Regions from separate parts of the Homo sapiens genome. Here region 2 is linked to region 1. Evidence: fine-mapped expression QTL. Tissue or cell type: whole blood. Region 1 holds a variant in brackets; the other region holds the start of a gene. All regions are shown on one strand. Distances are from middle to middle.

What was found. PIP is the estimated chance that this variant, and not a neighbour inherited with it, causes the effect.
Region 2: it holds the start of ACOT13, and the variant in region 1 is fine-mapped to the expression of ACOT13 in whole blood (TOPMed, PIP above 0.99).

What each region holds. Positions count from the first base shown.
Region 1 is chr6:24,687,536-24,695,643 of GRCh38, forward strand. All of the region lies in intron 1 of ACOT13 (acyl-CoA thioesterase 13), which reads left to right. It overlaps LOC124901278 (a long non-coding RNA gene), which reads right to left. Exons shown (of 2, transcript XR_007059508.1): 1 at 7,809-8,108; 2 at 2,172-7,210. Among named protein-coding and RNA genes, the nearest start is that of ACOT13, 25 kb to the left of the region's middle. The variant T/C (reference allele first, on the strand shown) is at 4,220.
Region 2 is chr6:24,663,735-24,671,842 of GRCh38, forward strand. ACOT13 (acyl-CoA thioesterase 13) reads left to right here and starts at 3,343. Exons shown (of 3, transcript NM_018473.4): 1 at 3,343-3,610. The coding sequence starts at 3,530. It overlaps TDP2 (tyrosyl-DNA phosphodiesterase 2), which reads right to left and starts at 3,165. Exons shown (of 7, transcript NM_016614.3): 1 at 2,964-3,165; 2 at 2,792-2,877. The coding sequence starts at 3,128. It overlaps LOC124901279 (a long non-coding RNA gene), which reads right to left. Exons shown (of 2, transcript XR_007059509.1): 1 at 6,915-8,108; 2 at 5,383-6,204. RefSeq lists enhancers at 2,211-2,883, 2,884-3,555, 3,087-3,381.

The DNA.
Region 1 (8,108 bases):
CATCTTTATGGAAATGAGTGATGAAGGTGAATACCTGAATGAGATGTCAAGAGGAGGAACACACTGGAGAGAAGCAGTAAAGATTTAGGACTGAACCTTAAAGACATACAGGCTTGAGAGAAAGAAAGCATGTAAAGAAGACAGAAATGGTTAGAAAGGTAAGAATAGAATTTTTTTTTTTTTTTTTTTTTTTGAGACAGAGTCTCACTTTATTGCCCAGGCTGGAGTACAATGGTACGATCTTGGCTCAACTGCAACCTCTGCCTCCCAGGTTCAAGTATTTCTCCTGCTTCAGCCTCCAGAGCAGCTGGGATTACAGGCACGCGCCACCATGCCTGGCTAATTTGTGTATTTTTAGCAGAGATGGGGGTTTCACCGTATTGGCGAGGCTGGTCTCAAACTCCTGACCTCAAGTGATCCTCCTGCCTCAGCCTCCCAAAGTGCTAGGATTACAGGTGTGAGCCACCGCACCCAGCCAGAAGAATAGATCTTATACTTACTATTAATAGAAAAACTTATAGATTTTGGACTGACTACAAAAGGGCAGTGATATTCAAAATTGATCAACATGATACACAAATAGATATTTTCAAGTTCATTGGTCATTAAAACTGTCTTATGTATAAGCAATACACAAGACAAAATAAGGCATTTTTTTTTCAAAGATCTATGCACAAAAAAATTTGTTGCAGCATTATTTGTGATATCAAAAGTGGGAAATAGCTGGGCATGGTGGCTCATGCCTGTAATCCCAACACTTTAGGAGGTGAAGGCAGTAGGATAGCTTGAGCCCAGGAGTTTGAGACCAGCCTAGGCAACAAAATGAGATCCCATCTCTACAAAAAAATAAAAAAATTAACCAGGTGTGGTGGTGTGTGCCTGTGGCCCCAGCTGTGCAGGAGGCTAAGGTGAGAGGAACCCTTGAGCCCAGGAGGTCGAGGCTGCAGTGAGCTATGATCATGCCACTGCACTCCAGCCTGGACAACAAAGTGAGACCCTGTCTCAAAAAAAAAAAAAAAAAAAATTGTGTGAGGGGAAATAACCTAAATGTCCAACCATGGGAGAATTAGTAAAAGAAATCACAGCAACTGCATGTGACTGAGTCCTGTGTTACTATAAGTCACATCTTAAAAATGACTTACTAACAGGAGCATGTCATTAAATGATGTGCACCTTAAAAACTTAGAAATTTCAATTGTTTATTTTTAAAAACATCTACATAGCACTATGTGTCAGGCACTATGCACTTTGTTCATCTGAACTCATCTTTTTATGGCGAGAGATACAATAAAAGTCAAAATACAACGGTCTGGAATTTCACCATATGAATTGGTGTTAAAATCTGATAGGTAAAAAGAACTGTAGAGACAGACTGTAATAGGTAAGTAGGCACAAAAGACATAAATAGGCTGTTCACAGAAAAAAGGCAATAAACATTAAAGGATGCTTAAAAGCACTGTGAGTCTGGCTAATGCAAATTAAAACCATGAGATACTATGTTTTGCTTGTCAGAGTGTAAAAATTAAGGTAATATGCATCTTTGAACCTAGGAGGTGGAGGCTACAGTGAGCTGAGATTGTGCCACTGCACTCCAGCCTGGGCAACGAGAAAAAGACTCCGTCTCAAAAAAAAAACAAACTTTAAAATATATACTCTTAATACCCAGCTATCTAATTTTGTCAGTCTGTCATATACAAATAAAGCATCTTTGTGATGGTAAAAAAAATATAGAAATAACACATTTTAAGAAATAGTTTGATAAATTGTAGTATATTCATAGTAGGGAATACCACACAGCTATTGAAAGAGATCTATATACATTGGGCTGGAGGCTGCGCATGGTGGCGTGCCTTCTCCTTTTGGGTCACTTAAGCCCAGGAGTTTGAGTCCAGCCTGGGCAAAATAGAGAGACCCCATCTCTAAAAAAATTAAAAATAAATAAATTGAGCTAGAGAAATGACTGTGATACATTGGGAAGAGAAAAATGAAAGCTGCCAAGTAATGTATATAATATGATCCCATTTTTGTAATTGAATAAAAGGCAAGAAAAACACCCTTTAAGAAAATTTTGTATACCCTGTGTATATATGAGTAAGCCTAGGGAATGGTATAGAATGATATTCAGCACCGAAAGAGTAGTAGGTAGGAAATTGTACTTCTATGCTGCTTTATATATGTAAAATGAATGTTTTTATTTTTATAATTAAAAATCTAATAAAAACAGTAAGTTAGATGGCGCAGAGATAGGATTGAAGGAATCAGCATACAATTAGTGAAGTAATGAACTCAAGAGTTATTCATATTTTAGAGGAAAGGAATGTGGCATAAACTCACAGCAAATATAAGTATTTTATAAAATTAATTAATTTTAGCAGTAGTGAATGGATGACCAATTTCAAGAGAAATGATGAATACATTTTCTCTGCCATGGAACATAGTCAAGATTTAGTTCTTTCTATGTAGATCCTCTGAGCTACTGCTGAATTAAAAACAGCACTAAGAAAAAACTGTAGTTTTTACTTGGCCATCCTAGGAGTTCCAGGACTTTGTAGCATACAAAGTGAACAGAGATGATTTAAACTTCTTTGTGCCTGTTTTGTTTTGTATGACTAATGGGCTGTTCCCCTGGCCTTGATTTGCCAGATTTGCATTCCTTCAGAGCATCATCCCCTCCTGGGAACTACCGTACTAGATTCCAAACTGAAGCTCAATTGCAAAAATTCTACACAATTTGCGCTTTCCCTCTTTAAAGGAGAACTGGAAGTGTGAACAAGCATTTCCCAAATCCTCAATCTATGGAAGACAGGATAAGAAAGGCTCCTTCCCTGTCAGCCCCCTTTTCCCAGGTTCAAGGCAGTAGAGAACCTGTGTATCAGAGAAGTCTTGCCAATAAGATCCATGTGATAGAGGCCTTCAGAGCACCCACCTTTATAGGCATTCCAGAATGATTCAATAAAATCTGCCACTTACCAGCCTTTGGGGAAGAAAAATATAGTGATTTCTTTTTTAATCATTAAACTTTGTTTTAGTGGGATAGTAATTGTTTTTATTCTTTTGTAGCATATCTGTCACCACCACCACTATCTCAGTGAACAAAAAGAGTGTTACTTAAGCTTAGCTAACTAACCTTCAGGGAATATTTAATTTAATTCCTGTTTGCTCTTCCCTAGGGCTTTGTTTTGCTTCCCATGGCATTAGTTTGCCAACTCTTGTTATTTTTGGCCTTCTCTTATAACCCTTGCTGTTTTGTACACTCCCTGAGGATTAGGGCAACATCGTACTCACCTTTGGATCCTCTACCCTTGCCCCATTTGCCTGCCATTTTCACTTATCCTTCAAAGTCCTTTGCAGGTGACACCTGCTATCTCTGAGAAGGCTTCCCTGGCAGCCCCAAATGTCTTCCTCTGATCTACTTCTACACCTTGACTAACTTTTGTTATAGAACTTTCTGTATATTATTGAAAATATCTGCTGATTTGTTTGTCTTCCCTCTATACTTTTTCCTTGGGAGCCAAGTCCATATGCTTAATAACCATTTGTCAAAGGGAACTTTAGTGCCTAGTGGAAGGTGCCCAGTTGAATGCCTTTTACATAGAAGATTCTCCCCATAGTTTGTTCAGTTAGTTGCTGAAGCCACTAAATATTGGGCATATTGTTATAGAATGCTCCTTGTTGACCTTCAGGTTTCAGTGTATTCATTCACTCAACAAATATTTGAGTGCCTACTATGTGCCTACACCCTTACTGAGCCAGAGACATACATTCCTTTAGGAATGTATTTAGCTACTAAAACATTCCTAGTCTAGGTACTGGAGATACATCAGTGAACACAACTGACAAAAACGCCTGCACGCAATGGAAGTTCTATTTTAGTGGAGCAAATCAAACACTAAACAAAATAGGTAAAGAGAATATATAGTATGTTAGATGGTGATAATTGCTATAAAGGAAAATAAAGGTGGAAGATAGAGAGTATTGGTGCAGGAGAACTTAAATCCACCCCCCACCCTGCCCCAAGATGTGTATTCCTGTAAGTTCTTTTTTTAAGAATTCAATTTTAAATCTTATCTGGAAAGATATCACTGAAACAGTGACGTTTCAATAAAGACCTGAGAAAGTCATGAATACTGAAGGAGGAGAGTGTTCCAGGAAGGGGAACAGAAGGTGTAAAGGCCCTCAGACTTTCCATTGCTGTGCTTTCCATTGTTTGAGGGCCCCA[T/C]TAGAGAGGGTTTTAAGCAGATGAGTAACATAATTTGACTTCTACAGCTGCTCTTTGACTTACGATGAGGTCGCATTGGGATAAGCCCATCATAAATTGAGATACTTTCAACTTAACAATAGTTTCATCTGAACATAAAGTCAAGGATCATGCTGAAGGCATATCACTTTTGCACTGTTGTTTTCTGTCAAGCAGTCTATATTTTCAAAGGAGCATTCTTGTAGCTACTATTGAGACTAAACATGGGGATGGTGGCAAGGGCAGAAATAGGGAGATAAATTGGAAGTCAGTTGCAACAGCTCAGGAGAGAAATATATCCTATATCCTTCTGAGTGAGTCCAGTATCAAGTCTGGTCTTTGAACGACTAGTTAACTCTAAGACTTAAGAGCCAGCAAAGGAGACTGGGGAGTGGCTGGGAGAGTAGGAGGAAAACCAGGAGGAGGTGGTGTCATGGGAGTTAAGGGAAGGCTAGGAAAAGTTCACGACGTCACCAAATGCTGAGAGGTCACTTAAGGGAAAGAGAGGCTGCCAAGGGTCCTTTGAGTTTTGTAGTTAGGTCATAGTTGACCTCGGCAATAGAAATAATTTTAAGAAAATTCATGCCAAACTATACAAACCAAAGTTTCTGTTTGATAATAGTTTTTATAATAAGGATGCAAATTAAAGTGGTGTTGTTTTGGGGACAGGGTCTCACTCTGTCAGCCAAGCTGTAGTGCAGTGGCACGATCACAGCTTACTGTAACCTTGACCTCTTGGGCTCAAGCGATCCTCCCCACCCCAGCTTCCCTCGGAGCTGGGACTGCAGGCACATGCCACCATGCCTGGCTAATTTTAAAAAATTTTTCTAGAGTTGGGGTCTTGCTGTGTTGCCCAGGCTGGTCTCAAACTCCTGGGCTCAAGCAATCCTCCCACCTCAGTCTCCCAAAATTAAAATGTTTTGATCACCTGTGATATACCAGGCCTTGTCCTAATTTGAATTTTAATCTTAATTTTTACAAAACCCTATAAGGGCAGTACAGTACATTATCTCTATCAATGGGGAAACCTCAGTTCAGGGTCTTGCCTAAGTCTGCTTCCAGAGCCAGTACTCTCAACCATTAAGCGGAAGCCACCTGTGTAATGAAGCTACTGAAACATACATTATAAAGCAGAAATGCTGGACTGATAACAGCAATATGGTTGAACCATGGTACTTTTATAGCATCTACCTTTCTAGAGCCCCTTGAACATAAATGTCATCTGTGTTTGTTGCTGTTGCTACCCCATCACACTGCCACATCCTGTCTTTTTACCTCCTTTCCTGCTTATATGAAGGTGCATTCATACACTGTCCTTAGACACACCTCCTGTCATCTGCAGTGTCACACACAAAGTTAGCAACATCCATGGTCAGGGAAAATTGCTTGAAAACAGCCTTATTCACAAATATACACATACAAAATTGTCATCCATTAAGATTGTCTGTTTTTCTTTGTGCTTCTGTAGACAGTCTTCTTTTGGGGGTGGCTCACGTGTTTATGTACACAGATTTTCTCATACCATATGTCACACTCCTGTGCTTGAGGCCCATTACAGACACCCTTACTGAGCCAGAGACATACATTCCTTTATCTGTTTAGCAGAGGCAGTGGAGGCAGTGGTGGTGAGCTGCATAGCAGCCAGCAGCAGTTACAGTGATGGCAGTGGCTTGTTTATCCCACTGCTCAGCAGAATGCAACCCTTTTAAAAAAAGACCAGAATGATCTGAGATGCCAAGGCTTAAAGAGAATTCTTGGTTCTCAGCTTCATAAAGGACCATCTCAGTGATGAATAACAGCATCTTCACTGCTGTTATTAGGCAGCCCTTCTCCCTATCTATCTTTGCTGAAAAAGTGAGGAAAGGAGAGACTCTGTGTCATGTGGAGTGTCTCTTTGTGATGAATTGTATCTCAGATGGGAGAGGGAGGGTGAGGGGCTATGGCAACCTGAGTCTTTTTTTTTTTTTTTGAGACGGAGTCTCACTCTGTCGCCTAGGCTGGAGTGCAGTGGTGCGAACTCGGCTAACCTCCACTTCCACCTCCCAGGCTCAAGGGATTCTCCTGCCTCAGCCTCCCAAGTAGTTGGGATTATACGTGTGCCCCATCATGCTTGGCTGATTTTTGTATTTTTAGTAGATACAGGGTTTCACCATGTTGGCCAGGCTGGTCTTGAACTACTGACCTCAAGTGATCTGCCTGCCTCGGCCTCCCAAAGTGCTGGGATTACACAGACGAAGTTGCATAAACTCATATGAATGCATGAAGTGCAAGGAAGAGACAGCACGATATAAGGCCATATATAAAAGGGACAGATTATTGTATATGTGTGTGTACATGTAAGAATTGTTATGATATACTGAGGAGCCCATTGTGGCAAATAGTGCTGAGCCATAAAAGTTCTTGCCAACCTACTGCAATTGTCCAACCTGCAGGATCCTGGGACTGAACACATCTGGACAGTTCTCTGTATTGTTAGGCCATGGCAGGTAAATTTTTGACCCCTTGACATCATAAAAGCCTCCATACCATCTTCACCAAGACACCTAAGGAATCAGAACCCAGTTGTCTGTAGCAGTCCAGGTGATATTTGAGGGTAGGCTGTTTTGCATAATGGTTAAACCTGAGACATCCTAGTTAAACTTTTCGACAGTTTCTCATCTGTAAAATGGAGACAATAGTATTCACTTCAAACATTGGCAGCACTGAGACAGCACATGTCAAATTGCTCAGCATGGTCTCTAACATGGAGTTAGCTATGTTGATATAACTGAATAAACAAGTGTGTGCCCTACAGCCCATCTTTACCAAGGCTGAGATGTTTTTTTCACAAGGTTCTCTCCCTACTCCCCTTCCTCATCAGAAAGAAGTTAGCTTTGCATTGGCCTCTTCCCCAGCAAGACTACTTATTAGCTCTGGGAGGGTGGGCAGGACATTCCTTCATCATCTTCCGTTGGTTTAATTCTCTTATTTGACCTGAGGAGACAAGAATTGAGAACATATAAAGGCATTTATATTGCCATATCAGGCTGCCCAGTAAAAAATTCTCTCTATTCCAATGTAAATTTTAAAACAATTTTATTAGTATGTCCTTTGGCCTTTCAAGTTGGGGGGAAAAATCAAAACCAGTATTCTGTACTAGAAAAATCTAACTGACATTTGTCTTACATTTTGTCATCCCAGCCAAAGTTAGGTAATCAAATGGAACTTTAAGAACTAAGCTTTACTGAACAAACTGTGCCTTAAAATACACTTAAACTGAGGCGCGGTGGCTCATGCCTGTAATCCCAGCATTTTGGGAGGCCGAGGTGGGTGGATCACCTGAGGTCAAGAGTTCAAGACCAACCTGGCTAACATGGCAAAACCCCATCTCTACTAAAAATACAAAAATTAGCCAGGCATGGTGGCACGCACCTGTAGTCCCATCTACTCAGGAGGCTGAGGCAGGAGAATCACTTGAACCTGGGATGCAGAGGTCGCAGTGAGCCGAGATTACACCACTGCACTCCAGCCTGGGTGACAGAGCGAGACTCTGTCTCAAAAAACAAAAACAAAAACAACACATTAAAACTACCTTTGCTGTCTACAAGCCGCTCGTATTTAGTTCTATTTCTTCAACTGCCTGGCTTTTTCCCTTATCTTCACCTGGATAACTCCTGCCTGTTCTTCAAGACTCAGATGTCGTTCTCCAGGAAGCCTTTCCTAATGTCTTTTCCCTGGAAATATACATTTTTAAAAGTTAGATATCTTTACTCCAAGAAACCTGTATTTATTCTGTCTACAACAGTTTCTTCCTCTGCAGTTTTTGTACTTGTCTCTTCCTTTAGACACTGAACCCGCTAAGAGCAGGGATTAAACTTCATTCATTTTTTAC
Region 2 (8,108 bases), 24 kb before region 1:
TCCTGAGGCCCAGCAGAGGCTGGGGCCATGCTTCCAGTAGAGCCTGCAGAACTGTTAGCCAATTAAATCTCTTTTCTTTATAAATTACCCAGTCTCAGGTATTTATAGCAACACAAGAACCTAATACAAATATCTCTGCAATTTATGCAACACCCACAATATTTAATATTTAATGCAGCAAGAAAAACCAGGCAACTGTATTAAAAATTTCCTTTTGGAAAAATGAAAAGGGAAATAAACTCTAAAACGTTGCTGTACAGAAATACTAAGGGAACAGAAAGGGACTGGCAAACTTTAGGGGCATGATTTGTTGACTTCATTCCTAAGCAGAGGAGGAAGTGCTTTTGTCAGTATATCTGGTGTCTTAGGTTTTATGTGTTAGGCCAGTGCTCCTCAATTTTAAATCACCTGGAGATCTTGTCAAAATACAGATTCTGATTCAGTAGGTCTGGGTGAGACCTAAGATTCTGCATGTCTAACAAATTCCCGAGTAGCAGTGGCACGCTGCTGGTCCAGAGTCCACACTCTAAATAACAAGGCTCTGGGACACGGGCTTTCAATGCTGGCTCTGCATTAGAATTACCTGCACAGCTAATAAAAAAAAAAAAAAAAGCCAATAAGGAATAATGGGCCCCACTCAAGACTAATGAAATTAGAATCTCTGGTTTTTTTTTTAAATTCCCCAGATAATTCCAATATGCAGCTAAGATTCAGCATAGCTGTTTTAAGAGGATTTCCCTTGTCTCTCATCAGAGACACTGAAGATAGATTCTAATGTAGGGGACTAAATCACTTTAGTGTTCAATTTCAATTTTTGTTGATATCCCAGGAATTCACTCCAGAATTGAGATTCCTGCGCCATTCATTTAAGACAGCCAATGCCCTTGCTCAGCAGGGTTGAGTTTTTCTGGTCATAAAATCTTCCAATCAATTTTTTTTTCCCTTTCATTTTTGCTAAAGCCAACATCAAAAATCTAATCAGGTCACAGGCCTTAGAAACACGCTGAAGTTTGCCCCTTCCCCATTTTTCTCTCTTGAGCAAACTAAACTTTAAAACCTCACTCTCATTCATACTTGACCTGAGTTCTGAGAGACAAGAGACCACAGCCTAATCAACACCTTTGCTTGTTTTTGCCAATTTACCATTCCGGGGTAAGAGAATCCTAATAGCCATGACACCATTGATCAGCTTGATCCGCATCTTTTCTGAGGGCCTATTACAGGAAATCCACTTATTTTGTTACTATTTATTGGTTACAATATAGTCTGTTGCAACCAACAGACATTAACTCAGGTTGGTTTGACCAAAACAGGAGAATTTATAAGGAAACAAACATGTCACAGAGCCTGGTACAGAAATACAGCCATGTTTAAGGAAGGGCAGTTAAGGGCTTTCTCTCAATCCTACACTTCAACTTCCCTCTGCTTCATTGTCTCTCTGCAGACCTCTGTTCTCAGCTTCTCTGTACACAAAAAAAGATATGTATGAATCCTCACAGGTGCTAAGTTAACATGTTACAGTTCCAGCTCCATAGGAAGACTCAGACTTGACTCTCTTGGTCCTAATTCTGAAACCAAGGAGAGGATCTGACTGGCCAGTTTGAGCTAGGCAAACACCTCCTAGTCCAACTTGCTCTGGTTAGTAAAACGGGAGCCAGAGACAAATCACTGTGGGTGAGTAAACAATTCCCCAACAAGAGGCAAGACAGAGAAAGGAACCTAAAGAAAATATCTTATCACATCTGTAAGCCAGTGTAGCTGAAAAGACCAAAGGGAAAATAAAGTCTCCACTATGAACAGTCAATTTTACAGGTTGTACATATAGCTGGGAGAATTTTATACATTCAGTAAATATTTATTGGGAGCTTATTATGTGTCAAATGTTGTGTCAGACTTTGGGAAATTAACAATGTACAAAACAGATACTCCTTACTAGATGTGCAGTCTAGTAGGAGACATAAAATAATGAACAGCAATTATAATACGGACTAAGGTATTGTAACAGGGGTCATGCAGGATGCTATAAGAGTACCTAAAAGGGGACTCTTACCCAGACTTAGGACATCAGGAAAAGCTTCCTAGAGATAAATCATGTCTCAGCTTGGGGCTTTAAGACAAATATTAGCAAGGAAGGGAAAAGAAAAAAATTCCAGGCACAGGTAATAAAGATCTTTACGAAGTTTCAAAGACAGGAGAAAATGACCCGTTGGAAAAAAGTAAAAGTTTGATAGGCCTGGAACCTGGAAAGGCAGGTTCTAAGTTATGGAGCCAAATAGTAGAGGGCCTTGTAAGGCAGCTACACTTTTTAAGTGCAGGAACTGGAGAGGGGCACTGAAATAACAGGAGTAGGTGTGCATTAAAAAAAAATAACAACAACAACAAACCTGTTATTCTGGCCGGTCAGCCTAGGGCCTAGAATAAATAAACAATACAGGAAGCAAGGAGACTTCCAAGTTGCCATTTTTCGATAGAAGGTTTAGCCTTCGTTCATTTGTTTCAAACCTCTCGCTTACTTATTTCCTTTCATTTGAGTTAAACATTACATTTCCATCTTTTCCTCCCTGGACCCCAAATCACGTTCGAAGCGACAGTCTGGTGCAGTGTTAGATCCGCTGCTGGGGCGCAACTCCGCGCAGCAGCAGCAACGCAAGCCCTGCTCCTCTGGCTACGCAGCTTGGAGATCTGCCTCAGCATCGTCCGCCCAGCTCCACGGCAGGTCCCAGGACGCGCAGGGCTACCTGGTATCAAACTGCCTCCGTGCGGACTGGCTCCCGCTCCCCTCATCACTTACTAGGTCTTGGGCTCAGAGATGGTTTCAGGTCGGCGTTCCAAGGCGCTCTCCTCCACCGGAGGCTCGAAGTAGGAGTTCAGAGCCCTCTGAAAAACAAAGGCACAAGGGATGAGGTTTGTGCGCTCCACCGACCTAGGTAATGGAGCCGGAAGCGAGGACAGCGAAAGCGTACTTCCATCTCCCAGTCGTTCTCGGCCAGGAAGCACTGAGCCACTGCGGCATCGCAGCTTGCGACCGAGGCAAACTCCACACACAGAAGTCGCCGCTTTTTCACCTCAGGCTCGCCCTCTTCCTCCGCCGCCTCCCTCCCGCCCTCCAGGCAACTCCCCAACTCCATCTTCCTGCCGCCTCTGCACCGCCCCTTTAAGCGGAACAGGAGGCCAACGCGCGGCTCTGCGCAGGCGCCTGTGTCATGGCGCTCCCGCATCAACCGCCCGGCGGGGAAATGCGCTGCTCTCGGAAAACTGGTGCAGCTGCGCCGCAAGGGAGCCGCCGGGGCGGTGGGTGCGAAGCGCGCATGCGCGCTTCGTCACAAGGGTGCGAGGAAAGTCAGTGAGCAAATCGCGGACCACCGGGGCTGCCAGCTCGCCTGACTCCCGGCCTCTTGCGCTCCTAGGGGCGGAGAAGGGTGCGGGCTCTTCGCCCTTTGTGTCCTCCTTCTTTCACTAACTTCTGGACTTTCCAGCTCTTCCGAAGTTCGTTCTTGCGCAAAGCCCAAAGGCTGGAAAACCGTCCACGATGACCAGCATGACTCAGTCTCTGCGGGAGGTGATAAAGGCCATGACCAAGGCTCGCAATTTTGAGAGAGTTTTGGGAAAGGTATGGGAAAGGTAGGGGAGAAGCCGTGGCTTCTAATGAAGGAAAAGAAAGCACCGTGCTTGGTGCCGTTGTGAGCTTTGAATAATTATCTCTTGTTAGGTTGTGTTCTAGTACGCCTGTAAATTCACCTTAGTAATAATGATTATTACTTTAATGGAGCCCCTAAATATGCTGGGTCGAACGCGTAAGTTCTCTATCTAAACATAGATAAGTATGGTTATGACTCGTGGAGACAGTTCCAAGGCTGGGAGGGACTTTGGAGTTTGATCCTTCAACCAACAAACGTCTGCATTGCTCCAGAGAAGAGTAAGAGAAACCTCTGCATTTAAGGCACATTACAGTCTAATTCTCTAGGCTCTAGAAGATTAGAAGATAAATAATTGCAATAAGGTACAAAAGCCAAGTGCTTGGTAGAGTGGTGAACGAAGGGAGAAGTTGTTCCTCTGTAGTGGTTTGGGAAATTTCTCAAAGGCACCCAACTCCTGAAGAAGTAAGTTAGCCCTTGGAGGAAGACTGAGTGCTTTTCTGAGACCAGCACTCACAAAGCCCGAAGGTGTTTGTTTGTTTTTGTTTTTTTAGGATGAGGTTTCGCCCTTGTTGCCTAGGCTGGAGTGCAATGGCGCGATCTCGGCTCACTGCAACCTCCACCTCCCTGGTTCAAACAATTCTCCTGCCTCACTCAGCCTCCCGAGTGGCTGGGATTACAGGCATGCGCCACCATGCCCAGCTAATATTGTACTTTTAGTAGAGACAGGGTTTCTCCATGTTGGTCAGGCTGCTCTCGAACTCCCGACCTCAGGTGAAACGCCTGCCTCCGCCTCCCAAAGTGCTGGGATTACTGGTGTGAGCCGCCACGCCAGACCTTGAAGGTGTTTGTTGTTGTTGTTGTTTTGAGATGGAGTCTTGCTCTGTTGCCCATGCGGGAGTGCAGTGACACGATCTCGGCTCACTGCAACCTCCGCCTCCTGGGTTCAAGTGATTCTCATGCCTCAGCCTTCCAAGTAGCTGGGATGATTACAGGCATGCGCCACCAAGCCTGGCTAATTCTTTATTTTTATTAGAGACAGGGTTTCATCATGTTGGTCAGGCTGGTCTCAAACTGCTGACCTCAGGTGATCCACCTGCCTTGGCCTCCCGAAGTGCTGGGATTACAGGCATGAGCCACCATGCCCCGCCAAAAGCAGGGATTTACTGAAAATGAAAGGACACTCCTGTGTTTGGGGTGTGGAGCAGCAGCTCAGGGGCCCTAATACCCCATTGAAGTCTCCTATTGGCCACTTGGTACTCATCTCATGTAAATGAAGTGGTGACCCACAATTGGCTGTGAAAAGCAACCAATGAAAGGCTAAAGTGAAGTTACAAAGTTGCCCTTATATGCAAACGAAGACGTGGCGTGCAATCAGATGGTGAAGTTACATAGTTACACTCCTATGGGAAGATCTGATTGGTTGCAGAAAGAATAATTTTTTTTAAGGGATAACTTACTTCTTAGCGTAATTTTGCTTTTTGCAACCAATCAGAGGTACTTTCAATTTCCCATCTGCCACACAGAAAAGGTGGGGGTTTGGAAAGGGAGAAGCCTCTGGTTCTTTTGTTACTTGGTGTGGGAAGTTAGGGTTTTACTTTCAATTTAGTTCTAGGAAGTCAGCGTGAAACAGCCCTAGGTTCCCTGCCTCCAGATCCGATTCTCCTGCCTCGCTTGTAAGAAAATCATGCTCCATAAGAAGCATTTATAACTAAACCTTGTGAACCCCAAAAATTTGAGACAGGTATCAGTTAATTTAGAAAGTTTATTTTGCCAAGGTTGAGGATGCGCACGCAGTGACACAGCCTCAGGAGGTCCTGACAACATGTGCCCAAGGTGGTCAGAGCACAGCTTGGTTTTATGCGTTTTAGGGACATATAAGACATCAATCAATATATGTAAAATGAACACTGGTTGGGTTCGGAAAGGCGGGACAACTTGAAGCGGGAAGGGGGCTTCCAGGTCACGGGTAGGTGGGAGACAAATGGTTGCATTCTTTTGAGTTTCTGATTTACCTTTCCTAAGGAGGCAGTCAGATACACATTTATCTCAATGAGCAGAGGGATGACTTTGAATAGAATGGGAGGCAAGTTTGTCTTAAGTAGTTCCTAGCTTGAATTTTCCTTTTAACTTAGTGATTTGGGGGCCCAAGATATTTTCCTTTACATTTGCCCCCTTTTCTTTTTTTTAAAAAAAATTTTTTTTTGGAGAAAGCATTTTAGAAGAAAAATGAGTCTTTGGTCCCAGATTTCATCTGATCGCTCATGCTAGGATGGTTTATTCCTAGACAGGTAAGTCCCAAGTTATTAGGAAAGCTAATTTTTAGAAGGCTGTGAACTCCCATGTCTTGTGAAGAGAAAATAGGGGGAGGAAGGGTGAAAAACAACAAACAAAAGAACAATCCTGGAAAATATACATAGGCCACGTTATTCTGAAGTCCATACATCAGTAGGCAGGTATGAAAGTGGCTTATGCGTGTAAATAGGTTGCTGTTATTTTCTTCTGAAGTTTAAGTTGTCTAGCTTCAGTTTGCAGGGCTTTACAAAAGCACAGCTGTTTTCAGTGACTCCTAATTAGGAAAAAAAAGGAAAAGAAAAGAAAAAAATTAAAAATATTATTTTGGAGACTTGTAGCCAGGAAAAATTAGAATTCAGCCTAAACTGTAGAAAATAATAAAAATTGAAAAAATTAGGCAAGACTAGTATCTAACAACAAGTGGACTGTAAGTTTTGAAACAATTTTTCTCTCTCCAGTTTTCCATTTTTACTAAAGACAAATCATGGTAGGACTGATTTGCTTTATTATATTTGACCAGATTATTTATATAAAGTGTAGCAAGAATAATTATTTTTCACATAGGCTTTTTAAAATTGGCTTTGAAGGAACTTTGTTCCATAGAAGGAATCTCAGATAAGATTCTTTTTAAAGCCAAGCTCAGCCATGGATTTGTACCATCAAATACCTATGAGTAGGGTGAATTTCCTCTTTTTGATGTTCCATGATAAACCAGGGGCTCCTGGACCTGTCAGAAAATGACATTCTTTACTTAGCACATATCAGAAACCCTGTACAGGGACTTTGTAAAGTGTGAGGCCAGTTTTCCCAAGGGCTTTTATTGGCTCCATAAGTCAGGTTTGATTACTTAAAGGAAAGTACACCTTTCCACTCAAAGCCTTGGTAAAATAATCAGTTTCTCCAACTGTGTCCTGTTACAAATGAAAACAGATTCTTACTGCACTTATGCAAATAACTGTATTGGCACAAGTTAAGAATACTCACAAATAGTTTACAAATTCTGGAGAAATCAGGTAGAGAGAAACAAATATGCTCCAAATTTTGTTGATTGGAGTATACTAAATTGTTAAAAGCTGTCAATAGCTCAAAAGAAAAGTTTCAAGGCTCTGAAAAACAAAGCAAAAGATCAGCAATGTTTAAGCAAAAAGTCAAAAAGATTAGTTCAGTCCCCTTAGTTAATTCCTATTCTGCTTGATATTCATGAGCATTTTAGCTCTCCATGAGTTCTGAAAGTTTTTCCTCTATTCTCATGTAACAATCTCCAAAGTTAATGGAGACCTGCATTCAAGAGGAAACAACAGGTGCTGGAGAGGATGTGGAGGAATAGTTACGTTTTTACACTGTTGGTGGGAGTGTAAACTAGGTCAACCATTGTGGAAGACACTGTGGTGATTCCTCAAGGATCTAGAACTAGAAATACCATTTGACCCAGCCATCCCATTACTGGGTATATACCCAAAGGATTATAAATCATGCTACGATAAAGACACATGCACATGTATGTTTATTGCAGCACTATTCACCATAGCAAAGACTTGGAACCAACCCAAATGTCCATCAATGATAGACTGGATTAAGAAAAAATGACACATATACACGATGGAATACTATGCAGCCATAAAAAAGGATGAGTTCATGTCCTTTGTAGGGACATGGATGAAGCTGGAAACCATCATTCTCAGCAAACTATCACAAGGACAGAAAACCAAATACCGCATGTTCTCACTCATAGTTGGGAATTGAACAATGAGAACATTTGGACACAGGGCAGGGAACATCACACACTGGGGCCTGTCGTGGGGTGGGGGGATGGGGGAGGGATAGCACTAGGAGAAATACCTAATGTAAATGACGAATTAATGGGTGCAGCAAACCAACATGGCACATGTATACATATGTAACAAAACTGCACGTTGTGCACATGTACCCTAGAACTTAAAGTATAATTTAAAAAAACAAATTTAACAAAGAAAACATTATCAAGAATAAATAATGAATCTCAAAAAACAACAACAGCAACAACAAAAAAAAACACTTTCTAAAGAGGACCAAAACAACACAACAATTGTGCGTGGATGACTAAAAGTTTTAGGGCAGCCATAGGCAAAGACACAATTGACAAGGAAATTTGATACCTCTCCTCTGTAGCACACAATAATTTTAACGTAACAATTATGA